Linked DNA regions of Homo sapiens: region 2 is reported to be linked to region 1. The links are microRNA targets in miRTarBase. Many come from high-throughput screens and were not tested one by one. Region 1 holds a microRNA gene; the other region holds the end of a gene's coding sequence.

Region 1 (3,244 bases):
CTACTAAAAATAAAAAAAAATTAGGAGGGTGTTGTGGTGCATGCCTGCAGTCTCAGATACTCAGGAGATGGAAGGAGGAGGATGGCTTGAGCCCAGGAGTTGGAGGCTGCAGCGAGCCGTGATCATGCCACTACACTCCAGCCCAGGCAACATAGCAAGACCCTGTCTCAAAAAAAAGAAAAAGAAAAAGTAATAATAATAATTACAAAAGTTAAAAACCAAAGCCAGGCATAGTGGTACACACCTGTGGTCCCAGCTACTTGGGAGGCTGAAGCAGGAGAATGACTTGAGCCTAGGAATTGGAGGCTGCAGTGAGCTGTGATCATGCCACTGCACTCTAGCCTGGGCAACATAGTGAAACCCTGTCTCTAAAAAAAAATTTTTTTATGTTAAAAAACCGTATGAGCTCCCACTCCCTGCTGGCTCCCTCTAAAGTGGTTTAAAACACAGATGTAGGAGGCAGATGGTCTGGGTTCAAATCCTGCTCCATAGCTGGATGTGGTGGTGCACTCCTGAGGTACTAGCTACTTGGGAGACTGAGGCAGGCGGAATGCTTGAGCCCAGGGATTGAAGATCAGCCTGGGCAACATAGCAAGTCCCTGTCTCAACAAACAAACAAACAAAAAAACAAAAACAAAATCCCACTCCACTACTGAGTTCTCTGTGGGGATTATAATTAAACCAGCCTCACTGGGTTGTGAGAATTCAGTGAGTTCGCTGAGAAGAGGCCTAGAACAGGGCCTGGCACACAGTAGGTTCCAGGGCATCCTTGACTGTTGCTGTTGTTGGCATCATCGTGCCTCACCCGATACCTTCCAGGACCCCCTGCCTGAGCCTCGCCCCCACCATACTGGGAGATGCCTGGAGGCCCTGCCTTGATGCTGAATTTTGAGAAAGTCCCTGGAGGGGCAGGAGGGGTCAGGAGGACTTGGAGGGGGATCACAGGGCAACTAATTATTAAAGCAGATAAAGATGTTTAAAACAGATAAGGAAGTCTTTTAATATTTTAATCTGTAAAGTCTTTAATCTATGCAGGCTAATGTAAAGTCTGTTTACTCCTAATCATGTCTCAAAATAACTCCACCGGGCATTACCTTGTGGGGTTGGAGAGCTGGCTGGTCCAGCCCCTCAGAAGCTCTCCCCTCCCCGCAGGGTGAGGAGGTCCTCCGGCAGCTGCAGACCCTGGCACCAAAGGGCGTGAACGTCCGCATCGCTGTGAGCAAGCCCAGCGGGCCCCAGCCACAGGCGGACCTGCAGGCTCTGCTGCAGAGCGGTGAGCTGGGGCCCAACTGGGGCTGGTCTGGGCCTGGGGGTACCCAGCCTGGCCCCTGATCTCTGCCCCTGCTGGTCACAGGTGCCCAGGTCCGCATGGTGGACATGCAGAAGCTGACCCATGGCGTCCTGCATACCAAGTTCTGGGTGGTGGACCAGACCCACTTCTACCTGGGCAGTGCCAACATGGACTGGCGTTCACTGACCCAGGTCTGTCTGCACCCTGTCTACCTTCCTTCCAGGCCACTCCCTGCCCCACAGGGCACCCAGCCTCCGACTGCATCCCTCACTCAATCCAGAGTCCTCTCCACCCATTCTCTGTAATGGCTTCCTTCTTGCCTCCTACCAGGCCTCCCTAATCCAAGCCATGCACGGTGGCTCACACCTATAATCTCAACACTTTGGGAGGCCAAGGTGGGAGGATTGCTTGAGCCCAGGAGTTGGAGACCAGCCTGGGCAACATAGTGAGACCCCATCTCTACCAAAAAAAAAAAAATAAGCCCGGTGTGGTGGCACACACCTCTGGTCCCAGCTCCTTGGGAGACTGAGGTGGGAGGATCACTTGAGCCCAGGAGTTTGAGGCTACAGTGGGTTGTATTCATGCCACTGCACTCCAGCCTGAGTGACAGAGTGAGACCCTGTTACAAAACAAAGAATCCCTAAATGGAGCCCTCTACTGCCCTCCCCCTGCTCCTGGAAGCCTGGGGCTCCCTCTGATCCCCAATTGCAGCTACCAGCCCCTCTACATGGCATTCAAGAACCTGCGCACCCATTTGATCTTCATTGTACATCTCTGTGTGCCTGCTCTAAGTCCAGCCCTATCCTGGGTAATGTTGGGAACATGGTGGTAACAGATGGACCTCATGGAACTCCCAGCCCAATGCAGACTGGCCTGTCACCTGACAGTGACAGCCCAGAGGGGTCAGGGCCGGGGTTGGGGAGACACAGGCAGAGGGTCAGGGCCAGGATGGAGGGAACAGAGGGCTGTGGAAGCTCAGAGACCCCAACCTGGGGCATTGGAGGGTTTCCCAAAGGAGGTATAACTAATCTGATCCCTGAAGGATAGGGAGGAATTAGCGCAAGATGGAACAGGAAACAGCTTGGGCAATGAGGTGAAGATAAGACAGGACAATAACTCATGAATTCATTTCCTCAACAGATAGTTCCCCTAACCTTTAATCTCAGCAATTATGCAGGGAGATGCTGTAGATATAGCTGTGACTGAGACATCCCTAGTGCCTGTCCTCCCAGCCCAATGGGAAGACCAGTTTGTCACCAGAAAGAATGAGGAGGGAATCCCAAGGGACTGTGAGAGCCCAGAGGAATGCCTGGTGCAGGCTGGGTAGTCATGGGAGGCTTCCTGAAGGAGGCAACATGTCAGCCTAGACCTAAGAATGAGTAGAAGCTAGCTCAGTGGAGGGTAGAAGCAACAGCAGATTGCAAACGTTCAGGAAACCTGGAGCTTTGGAATAACTGATTTTCATCAAAACTTAAGTTGATAATCATTCTAGGACTTTAGCTATTGGAGCTGGGGTGGAGGGGGTACTGTGGGACAGGGGGAAAGACAGAGACCAGACTGGGGAGTGTCCCTGTCATCTGTGAGCACTAGGCCGCTATCGCTGAGCTCAGCACTGCCCTCCTACAGGTCAAGGAGCTGGGCGTGGTCATGTACAACTGCAGCTGCCTGGCTCGAGACCTGACCAAGATCTTTGAGGCCTACTGGTTCCTGGGCCAGGCAGGCAGCTCCATCCCATCAACTTGGCCCCGGTTCTATGACACCCGCTACAACCAAGAGACACCAATGGAGATCTGCCTCAATGGAACCCCTGCTCTGGCCTACCTGGCGGTGAGTCTGGGGCAAGTGGGGCCTGTCATGTCCCAGCCCCATGCCGTCACTCACAGCCTCCATCTGTCCCTGTTTGGTGATGACAGGGAGGGCGTATCCTGACCATCAGTTCTCACCCCAGCTCAT
Region 2 (3,104 bases), not on the chromosome of region 1:
TTCCATATGTTCAGTTTGGACCAAAATTTAAGATAGCATTTGGTAGATATTTATGTCTGCGGTCTATTTGCAGTATTTTTATATAACCTCTGATTCTTGGGATATCCAGCCCCCATTTTCCTAACACAGCAGGGAAGACATATACATGTGGCCACTTAAATTAAAGGAAAAAATGGAGTAGGGAGATCCCAGGCTGCAAAAATATATACAAGCATTTACCTTTTCCAGAACTAAACACTTCTTCCATAAAAATATTAAATAGCCAAGCCCTATAGAACTAGGGCCAGGGCTACTTCAAATATAACTATTCTGTATTTTAAAAATATAGGGCAGAAAGCCTTTTGGGTGATATTTATATATTTTCACACAATATTTCTAGGTCCCTAAATGAATCATGAAGCATTATATAGAACCAAAAAAATGTATTTTCTTACATTATCTCTTAATTTAATTTCATAAATCTCTAGTAAATATTGTAGGTAACTACATTTCAGTATGAGAATTCACCTCAACAGGAAGTCTTTATAGAGGGCTTAATCTTCATTAGCCATATATTACCAAGTTCAGACTTATATAATGAACGGGTAGTTGGCAGACATTCGCTCTGTAAGACAAAGCAATAGCGTTTTTTCTCCCTACCAACAAAAAGGCAGAGTCCCTACTTTTAACAACCAGGGCTTTTAGAAACCACACAGTATTTCCTGGGGTACATGAAATAAAAAAACCATAGGGCTGGGGAGAGCCTAGCCTCCCCATTTACACTGAGCTGCTTGATGAGGCAACCCTTTCACTCATGTAAGTCTCTGCTTTATGATGGCAGTATCTTACAGTAGACAAGTTTAAAAAAATGTTTTTATTGTTGTTCCAGGATGTAAAAGGAAGAACATTAGGGACAAAAAATTGTTTTTCTTTTTTCCATATGGAACAGGGTTCTGCTGCTTATTCTTGGCTTAATATTACTTGTTCATGCTATGCCTCTGAAATGTGGCAAAAGTCCCTGATACATGAGCTATGAGGCTGTCCTCAGGGTTCAGCTATGATAGAGACTCAGCTGGCTTAGGCTTCATCCACTGCCAATGAAGTCAAATTTATAACAGCCACCTTGACAGTCGAAGCTAGGCCAAGTTAAAATAATTAATTCCAGAGAACTTCAAAGTGCATTAATCAGTTAATAATGGAGCAATCTAAACTTAAATAGTCGTGAGAAAAAAAGGAAACCCTGTTAAAAATTTTAGGGGTGAAAATATTGCAGATGAGGGTTATCAATCCAGTTCATGACAATGTAAAGAATGGAAATGACTACTCCAACATATGTCAGAGAAATGATAACTTTGAAGACTTTTAATTCACAGAGAATATATTCCTGTGGTTACTGGATGTTATCTTCCTTTCTTTTTAGCCAGTACCACAGCTCTCCCTCTCAAATGAAAATCTGATGTCAAAAGCTGTTTCACTGACCTCTATTTGGACTAGAAAGCACTCTAGTCTTTCTAGTCTTAAACTCCTTAACAATAATTAAATATAACTGAAGTTGTTGGATTATGATAAAACTATAAAGCATCAATTATATAGCGGAACATATAAAAATCACCAGAGACATCTTTAGATGAATTCAATTAAATTAATTCTAATTCTAGGCTAAGTTTTTTTTCCTTTTATTTATTTATCCCCCACCACGCTGCCCAAAAAAAAGACAGGGTCTCCCTATGTTGCCCAGGCTGGTCTTTAACTCCTGGGCTAAAGGGATCCTCCTGCCTCGGCCTCCCAGAGTGCTAGGATTACAGGTATGAGCCACCATGCCCGGCCCTAGGTTAACTTCTTAAAACAATGAAGGAATCACAGTGTTAACATTGTTTGTAAAGTGTAGTATTTGTCAGGCAACTGAAACAATCAGACTTCCAAATGAAGTCATTTGCAGGCTGTGACCAACTTTTCCCTGAATTCAAATTGACAAAACTACTTTGTAGAGATGCAAGAGTCTTGCCTCACTTCCAGGAATGATGTATGGATTCATGCGCCAGAAAGGAAAAACAATAGTCAAGTCAGACTAAAATGAGAGGGAGAACACAAGCCCGAATTTTGCTCACATCCCCAGAAGCAGGAGTAAGCTTGCACTTTTAACAAATGCCTCTTACCAAGAGGCTTAATAGGAAAATCTTGTATATTGCAGTTACCAAAGGACTTCCCTGCATGTCTGCAGAATGTCTAAAAGAAAAAAACACTACTCCCAAGTGAGACTTTTGACACACATAAAATATTGTTGTTAAAGGAATAAACTAGTGGAATAAGACAAGGCAAATTTCATTGTTGTGTTAAAATCTCATGTTAAGCAAGGTTCTGACTAGTCATTTGCAGACCTGATTTCTGGAAACGCTGAGTAGAAATCACTGGGAGATAAATCTAAATGAGAACATTAATTTACTTACACTCAGATAACTCTCTAAAGAGCCATTGTCCAATTTTACAAGATGTGCAACAGGCAGAGAAGGACAAACATTGCAAATAAGTTCTTGCCCATTCATGGTGCAAGTTCTCAGAAGTTACTCTTGTCCAAATCCTTCTGTTTCTTCTATGGCAAACAACAGCTTTTCCTTCAGTTGCTCATAGCTCTTGTATGGTGGCAGGTCCAGGCGATTAAAACTAAAAGCAAGAATTGTTAGTTTGAGAAAAGGAAATATGCAAAGAATCAAATGAGTAGTGTAGTATACTACTTTATACACTACTATAGAAGCACAAAAATATACTACTGTGCTTCAAAGGATACCATCAAGAAAGTGAAATAACCCAAAAATGGGAAAAAATATTTGTAAATCATATATCTGATAAAGGACTGGTATCCAAAATATATAAAAAACTTAAAACTCAACAATATTTAAAAATGAACAAAGGATAGAGATTTCTCCAAAGACATACAAATGACCAATAAGCACATTAAAAAAATGCTCAACATCCTTTACCATGCAAATAAAAACCACAATGAGATACCACTTCACACCTGTTGGGATGGCTATTATTTAAAACACCAAAACAACAACAACAACAACCAAAAAAAAAAAAAAAAAAAAAAAAAACAGAAGAAAACAAGAGTTGAAAAGGATGTGAGG

The links. The annotated mature microRNA hsa-miR-6796-3p reads GAAGCUCUCCCCUCCCCGCAG and lies in region 1 at 1,132-1,152, shown strand. An mRNA with a match to its seed (bases 2 to 7 or 8) in the 3' UTR can be bound and repressed. Matches are read on the target gene's strand: a 7mer-m8 pairs with bases 2 to 8, a 7mer-A1 pairs with bases 2 to 7 and ends in A, and an 8mer does both.
Region 2: miRTarBase lists ITCH as a target of hsa-miR-6796-3p. The part of its 3' UTR that is shown has no 7-base or 8-base seed match.

What each region holds. Positions count from the first base shown.
Region 1 is chr19:40,368,756-40,371,999 of GRCh38, forward strand. MIR6796 (microRNA 6796) reads left to right here and starts at 1,091; the gene lies at 1,091-1,152. PLD3 (phospholipase D family member 3) reads left to right here. Exons shown (of 13, transcript NM_012268.4): 7 at 1,153-1,273; 8 at 1,355-1,482; 9 at 2,918-3,118. RefSeq lists an enhancer at 3,027-3,244.
Region 2 is chr20:34,507,231-34,510,334 of GRCh38, reverse strand. ITCH (itchy E3 ubiquitin protein ligase) reads right to left here. Exons shown (of 25, transcript NM_031483.7): 25 at 1-2,640. The coding sequence ends at 2,541. Among named protein-coding and RNA genes, the nearest start is that of DYNLRB1, 7.6 kb to the left of the region's middle.